Linked DNA regions of Homo sapiens: regions 1 and 2 are each linked to region 3. Evidence: fine-mapped expression QTL. A gene starts in region 3. Each other region holds a variant in brackets. All regions are shown on one strand. Distances are between the middles of the regions. Region 1 holds the start of PLBD1-AS2 (PLBD1 antisense RNA 2). Region 2 overlaps GUCY2C (guanylate cyclase 2C). Region 3 holds the start of PLBD1-AS1 (PLBD1 antisense RNA 1).

Region 1 (5,651 bases), 37 kb before region 3:
TAATAATTATAGTGGAGGTATAAATATTTCTTTTGTAGTAAATGATTAACAAATAGAAAATCAGTTAAGAGTATAGATGACTTGAATTACACTATCAATTAACTTGCACTGACTGACATTTACAGAACACTACACTCAGAAGTACTAGAATTTACATTATTTTCTACTGCATATGAAACATTCATTGAGATAGACTCATGCTGAGCCATAACACAGGTCTCAATAAAGTTAAAAAAATTTGAAATCATACAGAATATGCTCTCTGATCTCAGAATAAATTAGAAAATGCAATTAAATTGGAAAACAGTGACAAAGATCTGAAAAATCTGTAAATTTTTGGAAATTAAACAATACACTTCCAAATAAGCTATGGATTAAATAAATCGTGATAAATTAGAAAATATTCTAAATGGAATAAAAATGAACACAAAATATACCAAAATTTGTCAGATGCACCAAAAGTAGTGCTTATTGGAAAATTTATCATTTTATTTGCTTATGATAGAAAGATCAAAATCAGTTATCTAGTCTTCTACATTAAGAAGCTAGAAAAAATTACAAATTAAATGCAAAGTAAGTAGAAGAAAGAAAATAAATATAAAAATGGAAATTTTATCTTAATAAAGAAGAAAAATGGACAATATCATGAATGATAATGGGGACTTTACAGATCCTACAGACATTAAGAGGTTAAGAAAAACATTATAAATAGCTTCATATCAATAAAAACAATAACTTAGAAAGAAGGGATAAATTCCTTGAAAGATACATTTTTAAAACTAACTCAAGAAGAGTTAGAAAACTGAAATAGTTCTGTAGCAGTGAAAGAAATTAAATTTACAATTAATAACTTTTCAACAAATAAAAACCTTCATATCTAGCTTCACGCGTGAATTCTATTAAACACTTAAAGAAGAAAATGGGCTGGGCACAGTGGCTCACACCTGTAATCTCAGCATTTTGGGAAACCAAGGCAGGAGGATCACTTGAGCCTAGGTGTTTGAGGCTGCAGTGAGCTATGTTCACACCACTGTACTCCAGCCTGGGGGACAGAGTGAGACCCTGTCTTTAAAAATAAATAAATAAATAAATAAATAGAATAAAATAACACTAATCATATACATGCTCTTAAAACACTTAGGAGAAAGAAATAATTCCACATTTAGGATATGAGGATAAGCTTATCCTAAAACAAAAACCATCATAAGAAAAGCAGACTACAAACAAATATGTCTCATGAATGTAAATGAAAAAAATCATTAACACGTTAGTAAACTGAACTAAAAATAAATACAGAGAATAACACATCATGACTGAGGATTAACCCAGGAATTTCAAGTGGTTTAACATCTGAAAATCAATCAATGTAACTTATCATATTAATAAAGGAAAAAATTCATATGATCTTTTCAACAATTGCTGAGAAAGAATTCAGAAAAATGCAACACTCATTTATTGATAAAAATATTAAAGAAAGTAGGAAGAGCAGGGACCTTCCTTAACATTATAAAGGGCATCTACAAAAAATCTGCAGTTAACATCATACTTAATGGTGAAAGACAATACTTTTCACCCTAGGTCAGGAATTGGGCAAGGATTTGCATGCTCACCACTTATGGTCTCCATTATTCTGGAGGTCTTCTCCAGCACAATCATACAAAAAAACAATCAAAGACATACAAGGGATGGAAGAAGTCAAACTGTCTTTATTTAGAGATGTCATGATTGTATATATAGAAAATCCCAAGGAATCTACAAAAAAGCTATTAGAAAGATCTCAGGATAATAATGTACAAAAAAATCGTAATACATTGTGGTAGTTTTCAAATTTCCACAAATTCTTTGGCACCCTTCTCTTTAAAAGGTGGATTCTAATCGCCTTTCCTTGAATGTGGGCTGGTCATAACACCTTGCTTCTAATTAATAGAACCTGGTGGAAGTGAGCGTGTGTGACGTCTGAGGTGAGGTCACAATAGGCATTACTATTTCTGCCTTGTTCTTTTGGATGGCTTCGTCTGGAGCCAGGGGTCTTGCCATGAAGGACATTCAAGCAGTTCTGAGGAGAGGCCCAAGTGAAGAGGAACCAGTTGCCAGCACCACCCTGTCAGCTATGTTAGTAAGTCGTTTTGGAAGTGCATGTTCCAGTCTCAGTTAAGCTATCAGAGATTTTAGCCCCTCAGTCATTGAGTCTTCCAGCTGAGGCCCCAGTCACAGTAGAGACAAATTATCCCCACTGTGCCCTATCTAAATTCCTGATCCACAGAAACCATGAGTAACTAAATCATTATTGTTTTTAGCCACTAATGTTTGGAGCAATTTGTTATGTGGCAATGGGTAACCAATAAATACATATGAGCAACAAACAACTGAAAAAAGAATAAAAAACATTTTGATTACAGTAGCATCAAACATTACTTAGGATTTAACTTACTTAAAGGTATGTAAGACCTAAATACTGAAAACTACATGATATGACTCAAATTAAAGACTGAAATAAACAAATAGATTATATTAGTAGATTGGAAGACTCAATGTTGTTGACAAGTAAATTTTCTCTGGATTGGTTAAAACTATCAGATCTTTGTGCTGAGGTCTTCACACAATTGTATTGGCTGCCATTTCAGTGCCGTCATTTTCTAGTGATTTATCTCTTTGTCTTACCTCCTTGATTATTAATTTGCATTGCCAAAATAAGTAAATGTGTGGGGAGGGCTAGTGCAAGGCTTCTCCATTCCTTACTCAGCCTTAGCTGTTACTAGGCAAACAGACCATGTATTCAAAACCCTTCTTGTTAGGGACAGAAACTCCTAGAACAAGGCCATTCAAAGCCACTTTCCTTTGGGTATCCAGTGCCTCAGGCAAGTGTTTTTTGTTGTTGTTGTTGTTTTGTTGTTGTTTGTTTGTCTTTTTTAACAGGGCCCCTGCCTATATAAACAATTTGATTAAAAACATATATTTAAAAATTCATCAGTACATGTGAGATATGATGATTTATCATTGAAGATTTAGGATGATGGGCAGAGAAAGGCAATCTGTTTTGTCTATTGTCCAATCAGTGCACGTGAAGATTTGTTACAGTATCCAGGTACCATCTCTTTGTATTCTTTATTATTAAATGCATTGTTCTTGGCTAATTTCCTATTTTTTGTTATGAGAAAAAGGTAGCAATACTGTTATTACAAAACCATGACTTT[T/C]TGGAACCTGTTTGTTTTGAAACAACACAGATCTCCTTGCCTCTGCAGTTCCCTAACACCATTTTCTTAATGACTTTGCGACATCTACCACTCTACCTGTGAATCCTGGCTTCTAATGACTCAAAAATCCTTATTATGCTTTGTTAATGATGACCACAAATGCAAGCCTTACCCAGAGTGTTAAAAAAATTGTGAATGATAATTTGTTTTATGGTTACTAAAGCTACACTGGGAATTTTACAGTGTAAACATAGATCGACATGTTTTCTGTTGGACTCTTCAGGCTAATTGCTGCCTCCCTAGAATGTAATCTCTTTGTTGTTGTTCTTGAGACGAGGCCTCACTCTGTCCCCCAAGCTGAAGTGCAGTGGTGCTATCTCGGCTCCCTGCAACCTCTGCTTCCAGGGCTCAAGCTGTTCTTCAGCCTCAGCCTCCCAAATAGCTGGGATTACAGGCATGAGCTACCAACACTCGGCTGATTTTTTTGTATTTTTGCAGAGACGGGCTCTTGCCATGTTGCCCAGGTCTCAAACTCCTGAGCTCAAGATAATCCGCCCACCCTGGCCTCCTAAATTGCTGGGATTACAGGCATGAGCCTGCTTAGCCTGTTTAAATGTTAAGTGCATGTATTTGAAAGTAGGTACATAAAAAGATAAAAGAACAGGCTAAAAGCCCCAGGAAAATTTAAGTAAAGTTTTCATAATTTAAGGCTTCACAATTTAAGTCAAGTCTTCATGAGTCAAATCTCTTTTCATGCTGAACCCTCCCCCACCTTCACTCCTCACCCACGGGCACCAGTGGGTAGGATAGGTGAGAAGCCTATAAGTCGAGCTGGAAGAGCTGTCCCAATCACACCAGAAAAATCCATCTGGCTTAAGACTGACCCAAGACAGTAGGAAGTCACATCACCAACTGCAGCAAAAGATTTGCTGCAAAGGCCCGTTTGTGTTGTGGAGCAAGGTTCTCAAAAGGCCTCAGAGGGGCCAGGCCTAGCCCGCCCCAAGGACTGACCGACACATGGTACAGAGCTGCAGGGGTGAGGAGGCCACGACAGGGGCCAGATGTGGAGCTCATAGGTCGAAGTTCGCTTTACCGTCCTCCCCTGCTGCATGCTGAAACCCGAGGGTAAGAGGTGGTTTTCAGTAGCATAGAGCCCTGAACATATGCTCTGACATGAGAGTCACCCCAGGTCATCGTGTGACCACCGTTCTGACAGCTCAGTTATGCACCATCTTGCAAAAAATATATACTGTGAGGGCCAACTAGAGGAATCTGCTTACCAGGACCAGGCCATAGGCTTGAGTCCCAGAGCTCCTTAGGGCATCTTGTTGAACCCATGCGTGGGCAGGAATGGAGGAGAAGAGCCCCCAGATAGGGAGTCCACATGCGTTGCTTTCTGGACTCAGAGAAGCTGACCTGGATGGCTCTGCCACCTTGGTCAGTCTTGGGCACTAGAAGGGGATTTTGAAATTTTCTGGAAAGGAGCTTTCTAAACTAGATGCACAGAGACACAGGTCAAGATACTGCCAGCCTGGCCAGTCTCAGGATGCTGGAGGGGGATTTAGGTAATTTTCATGAAGGTAATTCCAAGCTGGGAGGGTGGGGTTCCTGTGCCCAGACCTAAGGGTGGTACTGAGGTTATCAGCACCTGGTATACTTTGGTATACTTTTGACCTTCCCTGGGTATTGCATGTTAGCCTCTTTAGGTGAAATAATTTCCTCAATCTCCACTTTGTATTTTAGAAAAGACTAAAAAAGACCAAGCCTGTTAAACAACTCCATCAAAGAAAAACAAGGAAGCCATCCAGCTTTGTTCTGGACTCAGCAGCTAAGATGGCATGAGCTTCATCGTAAAGCATAGTTCTATGTCATGTCTACTGGATGAATCCAATGTGGCTGGTCCCTTAATAAAATAAGTTGTAACATAAATGAGACTGCACATGTTTTCCTGTTTGGTGCTGAGAACAAAGCTGCCCAGTTAGAGAAAATATGAATCCCACTGTTCCATTGGCTCCTGTAAAAATGTTTTGGGGTATATATAAAACTGTCTGTTGCTCTCTTGGAGATTCAATTGCTCCAAAAAGCTCTACATATTATCTATGAAATCTACTTGTGTATCTCATCTGGAAGGATACATATGCAAATGTTAACAGGATTATACGTTTCATAAGAAAATCTTCCATGACCTTCTCCATCACTACCTCTGGGATCCAGGACTGTTAACACTACTGGAGAGCATTGTATTCCACAGAGATTTCAAAGCAGTGCACATAACATCTGAATATTGCATTTTATCACAAAGATGAGGAAGAGGAAGAATACTGGACTGCTCTGTCTCTTGCTGTCCTTAAATGTCAGTGTAATAGAATGTGAAAGAATCAAAGCACAGTCTAACTCAGAGAGAGGAGTCCCCAGTCCCCCTCAATGCTAAAACAACTAAGCAAACTAAGACAAAGA
Region 2 (5,651 bases), 51 kb after region 3:
AAAGCAAGTGTGATGTTAGGACACTTTTACGTAAAAGGAGACTTTTCCAAGGTGCAATCCAAATGTAAAGGCCAGAAGCATTATGGCTACCGGAGACAGGTAACTTACAGTTAATAGCTGGCTTTGCCAGTTGTGAAAAGATTCCAATAACTTTGGAAAAGCAGCCTGAGAAGCATTTGGAGACAACTGATGGCTATGGAGGGCAGCTGTTTTAAATGTGAGGAACTGCATGAAGAATCTGGAATAGCGATTCTCAAATATTAGTGTGGTCACAAACACATTATCTTGTTAAAAATATAGATTTCTGATCTACGCCCACAGAGAATCTTGCATAGTAGGCCTGGTAGAGTGTCCACACATCTGCATTTTAACAAGCTTCCAGATGAGGAAGAGGAGGAGAATGGGGCCACACCTTGTCATTCACTCCTTGTGATTCTAGAGCTTCCGAATAGTAAAGCAACTGGCAAGAGAGGTGACCTCAGATCATAGCAGCAGTGTGTAGTAAGAGTAGGGAAGTAAGTGGGGGGACAAGGGTTTTGATTCAAATTAAATAAGTCCTGGACCAGACTGTATGTAGCTCTTGTGTTTGGAGGAGGAACTGGATACAAAACCTGGATATGGCAGAGGAAATGCTGGCAGAGTTCAAAATCTCAAAAGGGCTCTTTGGAGTAAAGGCAAGTTTTGAGTTCACATTTTTTGGTGGTCATTTCTCTTGCAGAGGATGGAGGGTGCTCATCGTGATGAGTACAGAAGAGGATTAGCATGCTCAACTTTCCTGGCCAAGTCTCAAAGGAGGTGGCCCAAGCGTGTCTGAGAGCTTTTCCTATGCATTGTCTCTGTGGACTCCTTACCTTTAAGTATGTTTCTCCTCTCACTTCATAAAGGAACTGGCACTCAGTTCTCTTCAGGATGGCTATGGTGGAGCCACTCACGTGAATTCTCAAAGCTGGAAATGCAAATTGACAAATAAAAATCCCAGCTAGTACACAGCCTATTTGTTTCCCGTTGATTCAGGATATCAACAACACCTGAGACAAGAATCCTAAATCAAGAAGAAACAATTGTGGCTATTTTAATGAAAGAACACTTAAAAATAACATCAGAGAGATAAGAAATGGTATAGTTTGGATATTTGTCCCCACCCAAATCTCATGTTGAATTTTAATCCCCAGTGCTGGAGTCCTGGCCCCCGACCAGGTGTCTGGGTCACAGGGGTGGATCCCTCATGGCTTGGTGCTGTCTTTGCGATACTGAGTTGTCACAAGATCTGGTCATTTAAAAAGGTGTGGCACCTGCCCCTGCCACTCTCTTTCTTACTCCTGCTTTTGCTGTATGAAGTGCCTGCTCCTGCTTTGTCTTCTGCCATGAGTGAAAGCTTCCTGAGGCCTCCCCAGAAGCAGATGCAGGTGCTATTCTTCCCTTACAGCCTGCAGAACCATGAGCCAATTAAACCTCTTTTCTTATAAATAACCCAGTCTCAGGTTTTTCTTTATAGCAATGCAAGAATGCCCTCACACAAGAAATATAATCTCACGTGGGAAGAAAGAAGGCCTGGCATCAGTTTTCAGGGCCCTGCGTGATGTGATGGGGATCCCTAGGTTTTTCTCCATAGATTCTCATTCCAGCTCAGAGTAGTAGCCTGCGGGACCTAGTTTTAGATTTGGCTTGTAGTGCCAAGCTTGGGTGTTGGAGTTTGGTTTTGGGTCCCTGTGGAAAAGTTCCAATAAATAGCTAAAGCCTTGTGGGCAAGGTGAAGATTCGGGAGAGTTGAGGGGTCTTGATTTTCTCAAATTTCCTTCTTCTGGAACATTGTTATCCTTTGACAAAAGAAGTGGTGAGGGCACGCCCATTCACAAGTCCATTGATGTGTATCACCTTTCCCAATATAGGGGCCTAATAGCAATACCACAAACAATTACACAGTAAGAATAATGACAATCCCAAATTGTATACCTACCATGTACCATGATTGCTAAACGCTTAACATGACATCATCCCAAATTATTTCAGAAACCCTCTTGGCACGGTTGGTATTCCATTTTCAATTTGTATCTTTATCTTTCTGAGGGCTAGAAGGATCAGGTAGCTTTCTACTCAACTTATACTGAGAATGATTAACATAATTTCAATTGTAACCCAAGTCTGTCTGACCCCAACCTTATCCTTTTCCTTGCCAGCATGATTTGCCAGGACAAACTAGTATCACATTGTCAGTACACTACCAAAATACCATCCTGCCTCCTGTGGTTTCGTAAGCCCCAGCCATGTCTCCCAGTGCTTATTTTCTCTCTTCTATATATTTCTACTGCTACCACTGTCATCAATATTTATTGAGCATCTACTTCATGCAGCACATTGTGCCTCTACCTTGCCAAGCAAATGCAATATATTCCTT[C/T]GTATATAACAAATGCTTAGATTTTTCTTTACTAAAATCAATTCTTGGTTGGGTATGATGGCTCTTGCCTGTAATTCCAACACTTTGGGGCTTTGGGGGACCAAGGCAGGAGACTTGCTTGAGCCCAGGAATCTGTGACCAGCCTAGACAACATAGAGAGACCACACCTCTACAGAAAAAATTAAAAAATTAGCTGTGCATGGTGGCATGCCTGTAGTCCCAGCTACTTAGGAGGCTGAGGTGGGAGGATCACTAGAGCTGAGGAGTTCAAGGATGCAGTGAGCTGTGATTGTGCCACTGTGCCAAAGCCTAGGCGACAGAGTGAGACCCCATCTCAAACAAATAAACAAAAATCAATTTCCAGAAAAAACGAATATGCTTTGGGAGGCCAAGGTGGAAGGACTCCTTGAGGTCAGGAGTTTGAGACCAGCCTGGGCAACATAGTGAGACCCAGTCTCTATTAAAAATTTAAAAATTATCTGGATGTGCTGGTATGTTCCTGTAGTCCCAGGTACTTGGGAGGATGAGGTGGGAGGATCACTTGAGCCCAGGAGTTCAAGTTTACAGGGAGCTATGATCGTGTCACTGCACTCCAGCCTGGGTGACAGAACGAGAGCCTGTCTCTAAAAAACAACAACAAAAAAGCAAAACCAAATAAGAGGGAAACAGGAATGTGAACCAGAGTGTGTAGTTCTTACCTTGCCTACTGATTTTTTTTTAACTTTCATGAATCTATGGTAAATGCCAGGACTATTCTAAGTAGAATATCCCCAGATTCATTGTATATGAGCCAAAAATATAGAAATAGTCTAAAACTGAGCAAAAGTGGAAGAATAAAATAATTATCAGTAAACAACAATGAAAGCAAATGTAGCAAAAGGTGGATTGACACGGGTTTGTGTTCAGCTAATGTGAAGAATTATTCTACATCTCACTGGCACTTTGTATCTCCTTATTGTGCATTTTATCTCACAGTTGCCCTCTGCTGGAAAACAGCATCTTTGTCCTCTGAGAAAAACAGTCTCCCTTCTTACGGAGGCCAGTGGATTCCATCCTAGAGGCTGTGTTGACCGTATCTCCAAATAGACAATAACGAGGCATCTTGATTCCCACAACTCCAGCAGCACAGGGACCTGAAATGAAGGACAGAAAGCAGGAAGTGGAGGCAATAGAAATTGCAGAGTAGAGTGAAGACAGGTAAGCCTCTCTGTATGGTCACAATCCTGAATACTTCCTGTCATGGAGAAGTAGCTGAGGATGTGAAATGTGAGCTGGGACTTTTGGTTTAAATGGATGAATCCAATGAAGCATCATTATTCAATGCATGCGATCATAAAGTATTTTGCTCTCGCAAAGAAAACGACATTTGTAGCAAATAGGAAGGCATTCAGAGATCCAGATCACAAAGGTGATTTTAAATAGAAGGCTCTCAGGAAGGATGAAGATGAGCCCCACTGCTTGCTTACTGTGCCAAACCACACAACCCTGAATTTCACACTGCTGGAGGGCACTGTAGATTTGAAGCTTCAATGGCTCAAGTTTGTTTTATTTTTATTTTAAGGTGGCATTTCTGGGATTGGTGCCATGACAATGGAAGACAGAAGACAAGACAAAGGCATAACTTTCCGTAAGCATTTCATGGACCAGGCGAATGCAGCTGGATGGGGAAGCCTGTGGCACAAGGAGGTTCCAACAAGCAGAACAAAAGCCCAGGCTAGACTATGCGCTGTGGCATATTAGGTAGGAAATAAGGGTTATTCAGTCATGTATTTGCATAGAATGACTGAGTGCAAGGTGTTAACAGTTTCAGAAGTTAAAGATTAACTCAAAAACTGCAAAGCTGAGTTTTAAGCAATGCCTGGCTAAAGATTCATCTAGATGACTTCTGAGTTCCTCTCTTACAGGTGTTTTTTCTATAACACCTGTAACTCATCTCAAACCTTGATGTTCAAGGCTGTTGAATTAAACTAAGTTTGGCCTGAGGCTGCCTCTTAGGGGTCCCTACAAAACAAACTGCAACCTAGCTTGGTACATAAACAAACTAAAAGCCTAACTAGGGTATACTTACGTTATAGATAGCTGAGTCTCAGCCAATCGCAGTAGCTGAGCTTCAGCCAGTCACAGGCTGTCAACTGATGGGACTTTGACCAAATCAGGGGAACACAGAGGTTTGACCAATCAAGTTGTTTCTGTCCCTCACTTCTGTTTTCTGTCTATAAACATTGCCCGCCCACCTTGCCCATTGAAGCTCTCTGAACCTCTTCTGGTTTTAAGGGCCATCTGATTTGAAAATTATTCTTTGCTCAATCAAACTGTGTTAAATTTAATATGCATAAGCTTTTCTTTTAACAAGGCTATGTAACTTTCATGGTCTTTGAAAGTGACTCATGTACTTTCTGTATAACTGCAGTGGCAGGGAAGGGAGGGGGTATAAATATTATAGAAATTTCACCATCTGTTCTTTATTTCCCCTTGTAGATAATCTAATCCACTTAAGATACTATAATATTTTAGTGGGAAAATATATTGAAGTTGGGGGTGGGGAGAAAGGGAATGGGGAGGAAATAAATGAAATCATAGGTATGGTGATTTAAATAGGAGTCCAAAGCTTCTTGTTTTCGTACATGTTTGGTGTTTATCATGTCAGCAGTCAGTGGTGCCCTCAAAGGTCTTGTTCTTAGAGTTCTCTAGGAACTGGGTCTAAATATCTCAGGATGCATAGTGGGACCTCACATTTGGCAAAAAGAATTAAGAGTAAAAATTATGTGAGGTCGATCACACTTGAAGACCTTTTATCCTTTCTGATTTAGTTGGTGCACAGCAGTACATATGGTTCCCAATTTGCTAAGATGCTCAACTCCATACCAGAGTGAACTCCAATGCGAATCCATATTGGGAGGCCAGGAAGATGCTCCAGCTCAAAGGTCCCCATGAAGCTGAGGATTTCCAAGGCCATCTTGGCAATGTCTATTGCATGCCGATTGCCATTTCTCTTAGGCAAACCACTAGCCACCATGTACGCATCACCGATGGTTTCCACCTGTGGAAACAGTTTCTCATGAGTGCCTCTGCCCCTTTGAAAAGTATAGAAAGTAAACAGAAGCAGTTAATCACATGTCAAACACAAAAAGTGATTTGGGAACACAGTATGAGCATAGCCCTTTACACTTTTTCTGGGGCCAGTTGGATCAGTTCTATGCTGATTTCTTCAGGGTTTTTATAGTCCAGTTAATGGGTGATAAAATAGCTATAAAGG
Region 3 (5,651 bases):
TTATGCTAAGTCTGATGAATAGACTTGGGTGTATATCAGGGTGAATCAGCTTTCTTAGCTGTGATCAGATATGGAGCAGTAGAAAGACTGAATTTCTGGAGTCTAGCCCTGCAAGGCCGAGGGCCAGATTCTGAACCAGTTTTACCAATATACATACCATATTATGAGTCTCTCAGCAGCCAACCCTAAAAGAATGTCTGCAGAGTTAAAGGATCAACTGAAACTGACTCCAATCATAGGTCTGCCAAATCACCTTATGGAGACTGAATGACTTCCAAGATGTTAAACTTTTTCAGAACCAGATAAAGGTATGATTTATTTCTCTAGTGACCACCTGACTTCTCTATACATACCACTTAGAAAAAATTATATAAGGACCTTCTAAAATCAATTATGGGGCTTTTGGTCTGGAAAGATAAACGCAACACCATATGTCTGAAATCATAGCTTGAAAGATTTGGCTAGAATGACTGTGCAATTATTTGTCAACTTCTGGAATAATAAAACTATAGAGTAACCTTTACAAATTGAAGAATATGCAAGAATTAACTAAAAGTGTCCGGGCATGGTAGCTCACACCTGTAATCCCTGCACTTTGGGAGGCTGAGGCGGGCAGATCACCTGAGGCCAGGAGTTCGAGACTAGTCTGTCCAACCTGTTGAAATCCCATCTCTACAAAAAATATAAAAATTAGCTGGGCGTGGTGGTGTGTGCCTGTAATCCCAGCTACTCGGGAGGCTGAGTCAGGAGAATTGCTTGAACCAAAGAGGTGGAGGTTGCAGTGAGCCGAGATCACGCCACTGTACCCAGCCTGGGGGGAAAATAAAAATAATAGGAAATAATAGTAAAAAAAAAAAAAAGTAAAATTAAAAATTGAAGAAGTTGTTTTTGGATAGATAGATGCATATGAGTGGATATAAAATCCATTCCAAGGGGATGGACATGCAATCCCTTTAGTGTTTACTGAATTCCTACTAAGTTCAGGGTACTGAGCTGGGTACTTCAGAGAACACATGACAAGTGAGAGGTAGCAAGTCCCAGTTCTTTACTCTTTGGTTGTTCGCAGGCTAGTAGAAGGGTAAAGACAAAGACCCAAAAAGCCTCAAGGGAAAACAGATTAATGTGGGTAGGACAAAGGAAACAGAGATCTCATCTGCTGAAATAGTGTGGCATCACCAGATGTCCTTAACACCTAGGTAAGTAAGAATCCTTTCCAGATTGCTGGGCATGGTGCTGTCAGGATCACTTCATCTCAGAAATGTCCTTACTTTCTGCCTTGGCTCCAGAACCTCCAAGCATGGAGTCAGCTTCCTGTTGGAGGAACTGTTTAAGATGCAGTTTCTTACAAGGTGGTACCTTCTTGAATAAATAGTGCTCCATCTTCAGAAAAACAACGCCTGTCTCACTCCTCAGGCTGCCCCCTCCACCTACAAAAACACTTAATCTCACTCGTCCAAAAAAACAGAAAAGGAATAAAGATTTTAGCCAGCATTCCAAACACAAAAGCTACCTCCACTTTTGGGACCCTCCCCAGCCTCCCCCAGGTACCTCTGAATGAGCTGTCTCCCTAGACTAGAAGTAGACACCAAGGCCACCTCCATAGTTTAGGCAAAGAACACAGAAAATCACGAGTCAGGAGCCTGTGGGTACATCTGATCCCACAGACTGGAAAGATTTAAGATTGAAGAGTGATAACTAAGCAAGTCTCAAAAACGAAGGCTCTTGATGATGGAAGGTAGTGTAATAAGAATCAGTACACATATTTAGGAAGGGGCATCCTCCCCCAAGCCCCACCCTACTCTTGTACAAGGTCAGCACAGAAAAGGGGATTATGAAATAAGACAAAATTAATTCTCTTATTATTACTTTAGAATTCTTTCAAGTCCCTTAGTTACAGTTCATAATCTTCACCTCCTTAGGAACGGAAATCATAAATCCAAGGCTTTTTAATTTAATTTAATTTAATTTTGGCAAAGGATGTAGATTTGCATGAATACCTGTAGAGATAAAACCTGTTTTTCCAAGAGGGAAGTAGTTAAGAAAATGCCCTCTGGCATCCCCTAACTCTGTCTTATTTGCTGTGTTATCTTTATGCGAATTACTTCTGATCAATCTCACTTTTCTCATCTGCAGAATGGGGAATATAATCCTATTTAGGATTATATATTAAAAAAAAAAAAAAAAAACTGCCGGGCGCGGTGGCTCATGCCTGTAATCCCAGCACTTTGGGAGGCCGAGGCAGGCGGATCGCCCGAGTCAGGCGTTCGAGACCAGCCTGTCCAACATGGTGAAACCTCGTCTCTACTAATAATGCACAAATTAGCTGGGCATGGTGGCTGACGCCTGTAATCCCAGCTACTTGGGAAGCTGAGGGAGGAGAATCGCTTGAACCCGGGAGGCGGAAGTTGCAGTGAGCCGAGATCACACCATTGCACTCCAGCGTCGCCCACAGAGAGCGACTCTGTCTCAACAACAACAACAAAACCAAAAGGCCCTTAAGCCCACTGCCAGGCACGTATCAAACTGACAATCGTGCAATCGTGATTTTAAGCCAAAGTCAATGTAAATTTTTAAAACACAAAACAAATGGCAAGCCGGAACCATACCTCCCTACAATCTGGATAAATATATTTAGATGCCCATTGGCTGGAGTTTTTAAGACCAGCCCAGGCTCTGTGGGCCAAGAATCGGCGCAGGAGCGAACCGATTTGTTGGCCAAGAATTCGGGCCAAAACTTGTAAAGTTGGCAGACGCACTCGCCATGCCCTTCTCAAGTGCCCTCGCTGCGCAGCCGCAGGGCTGGAGCGAGACCGCCGGCCGGAGGCGCGTTTCTCTGAGTTCACCCAGGAACCAGACGCCCGCTGGACGTCAACTCGGCCGGACGCGGGGCACGGGCGCTAACAGGCTCCTAGGAGCCTCCCCGGGCGCCCCCCGCCCAGGGCGCGCTCTGCTCACCTGCAGGTTTCGGCGGCTCCGCGGTGACTAACAACAGCGGCAGCAGCAGCAGCAGCAGCAGAAGCGGTGGCGGCTGTGGCAGCCCCGGGCGCCCGCCCGGACCGCCGCGGGTCATCGCTCCACGGCCGCGACCTTCCTCTGCGGGATCAGGCGGCCGCGGTGGCCCGCGGTGGCAGAAGTTGCAAGAGAGGCTCCTGGCCTACTCAGGGGCGCCGCCTCTCCGAGGTGGGGCGTCCTCAACTTTCCTCTTTCTTGAGCCCGGCCTGCTCCGGGCTCTGAGGGGCGAGGACGCTTCACGTGGTGGCCTGGGGCCCACCCCGCCTAGGAAAGGCGGATCCTTTACGTCTGACCCTCTAGCAACCCCTGGGCCGGTCTGGGAAAGTTCCCCAGCTGCACTTCTGGGAAATGCAGAGGCTGCCTGCCGCTTTCTTTCGCAGTTTTGCGGCCCAAGGCTTGGGCGAATCAGTTCACATCAACACCCCTACTAGCCTCTCCCTCCGGGGTCGACCATTTATCTCCAGCAGCGGACCAGGCGCCCGGGCCAGGGTGACATGCGCGCCCTGCCTACACGCAGCTCGGATCCTCTGCTGTTTCTGGAGAGGCCTCCACAGGTGCGTTTTCCTCAGCGATTAGCGTACCCCTCATTCCCAGGCTGTTTAACCTAAATCCATGCGCTGTAGCTCAGATTTTTTATCCTTTTTGCTTCCTCTTCGTTGGCTGGAGCCACCACAGGAGAGTGATTCAGACGGGGCTGACACTAGACACACTCCTACGTTTCTGTGGAGTCCCCATTTCTGTGTGGGGTCAGTTAAAAGTGACATTGTGAAGTAGTCAAAAGTTATGCCTTGGGTGATATTGTGAAGTTGGCACCGGGTGCCCTAGGTGACATTGTGAAGTAGGCAAAAGGCATTTCATTCATTCACTCAGCATTGGCTGGGCCCATCTTATACTCCAGATACCAGTGATATAAAGACAGCTAAGAGCATGCCTCACCACAGACAAAAAGAACTAAGCCAGCCGGGCGCCGTGGCTCACGCCTGTAATCCCAGCACTTTGGGAGGCCGAGGCGGGCAGATCACGAGGTCAGGATATCGAGGCCATCCTGGCTAACACGGTGAAACCCCGTCTCTACTAAAAATACAAAAAATTAGTCGGACACGGTGGCGGGCGCCTGTAGTCCAGCTACTTGGGAGGCTGACGCAGGAGAATGGCGTAAACCCGGGAGGCGGAGCTTGCAGTGAGCCGAGATCGCGCCACTCTACTCCAGCCTGGGCGACAGAGCGAGATTCGTCTCAAAAAAAAATAATAATAATAACAATAATAATTTTTTTAAAAAAGAACTAAGCCATATAGATAAACAAGTACACAGAACTTGCCATTCTACTGTGTTAGAGCTATGTTTAAGGTGCAGTGGGAGAGGGGGAAGGAGGGAACAAGCCACCTCTCAGATGGGAACCTCAGCACCCCACTCTTCCTCTTGGCCTTTCTTCTAAGCTTAACCTAGGTGTCAAGGAGAGATGAGAAGAGAGAATAAGCAGTACCTTTCATAACGGGGAAAATGTAATTGTTAGAAAAGATAAAGAACCTAAAAGTTCATCAAATCTCTGTGCAAATTGTGAAACACAAGTCACAATTTTGTGGTCCAGGCACCATGGCTCATGCCTGTAATCCCAACACTTTGGGAGGCCAAGGTGGGAGGATCACCGGAGCCCAAAAGTTCAAGACAAGCCTGTGCCACACAGGGAGACTCCAACTCATTTTTATTTAATTAAAATTAAAGTCACAATTATGTTTAATGGCATTTAATGAATGAAGACATCGAGGACATTGTAAAAGTTGCACATTTTCCTTCAAGTTAGAAAATTAAAATGAAGAAAAATTAAAACGAAGACATCGAGGACATTGTAAAAGTTGCACATTTTCCTTCGTTAGAAAATTTAAATGAAGAAAAATTAAAATGAAGACATCGAGGACATTGTAAAAGTTGCACATTTTCCTTCAAGTTAGAAAATTAAAATGAACCAAAAATGAAAATTTTGGTTGTGTTATGATGGGAAGAGAACCACATTAGGATGTTCAAGGAAGTGGTGCCACCCCAAATATTTGAGTCATATTGCCCTATACCACCCTCCTTCACCTTACTAACCCTTCTGATCCAAGGAGCCAAGTGTTCTGATGAAGTAAGATGCATATAAATGCCTAATGTGAACCTTGAGGCATTCATTCATCTATTATTTGTCATCAAATATTCGTTGACTCCCATGTTCCAAGCACAGAGCAGTAGACAAAACAAAGTCCCTGCCCTTGCAGAGCTTGCATTCCAGTAGTGGGGAGCAAATTATACATATAAACAAATTAATTGGATCAGGACTTCTCCACATCAGCACTATTGAAATTTTGGAGCAGACAACTCTTTGTTGTGGGGGGGTTGTCCTGGACACCCCTTGGCCTTTACCTACTGGATGCTAGTGGCACCCCCATTGAAAATGTCTCCAGACATTGTCAAATGCTCCCGTAGGGGGGCAAAATTGCCCCCTAGTTGAGAATCACTGAATTAGATGATAAATCTTGCTTTCTTTAAATTATGCCAGTTTTACATATCTGGGAGGAAAATGAGCTGCAAAACTCACACATAGTTAGGAAAATAAATCTTGGGACCCCAAAATCACTAAGCCAAGGGAAAAGTCAAGCTGGAA

Evidence for each region.
Region 1: its variant is fine-mapped to the expression of PLBD1-AS1 in whole blood (INTERVAL, PIP 0.98).
Region 2: its variant is fine-mapped to the expression of PLBD1-AS1 in whole blood (TOPMed, PIP above 0.99). The same link has a PIP of 0.9 or more in prefrontal cortex.

Annotation. Positions count from the first base shown.
Region 1 is chr12:14,528,126-14,533,776 of GRCh38, forward strand. The region is part of intron 6 of PLBD1 (phospholipase B domain containing 1); the gene reads right to left. PLBD1-AS2 (PLBD1 antisense RNA 2) reads left to right here and starts at 2,014. Exons shown (of 5, transcript NR_187784.1): 1 at 2,014-2,116; 2 at 2,917-3,085. The variant T/C (reference allele first, on the strand shown) is at 3,195.
Region 2 is chr12:14,615,782-14,621,432 of GRCh38, forward strand. It overlaps GUCY2C (guanylate cyclase 2C), which reads right to left. Exons shown (of 27, transcript NM_004963.4): 23 at 5,261-5,435; 24 at 3,430-3,528; 25 at 852-946. PLBD1-AS1 (PLBD1 antisense RNA 1) reads left to right here. Exons shown (of 6, transcript NR_120465.1): 5 at 3,371-3,592; 6 at 3,957-3,974. Among named protein-coding and RNA genes, the nearest start is that of GUCY2C-AS1, 47 kb to the right of the region's middle. The variant C/T (reference allele first, on the strand shown) is at 2,396.
Region 3 is chr12:14,564,627-14,570,277 of GRCh38, forward strand. PLBD1-AS1 (PLBD1 antisense RNA 1) reads left to right here and starts at 3,106. Exons shown (of 6, transcript NR_120465.1): 1 at 3,106-3,180; 2 at 3,393-3,566. PLBD1 (phospholipase B domain containing 1) reads right to left here and starts at 3,257. Exons shown (of 11, transcript NM_024829.6): 1 at 2,956-3,257. The coding sequence starts at 3,070. RefSeq lists silencers at 2,102-2,278, 3,018-3,127 and an enhancer at 2,523-3,204.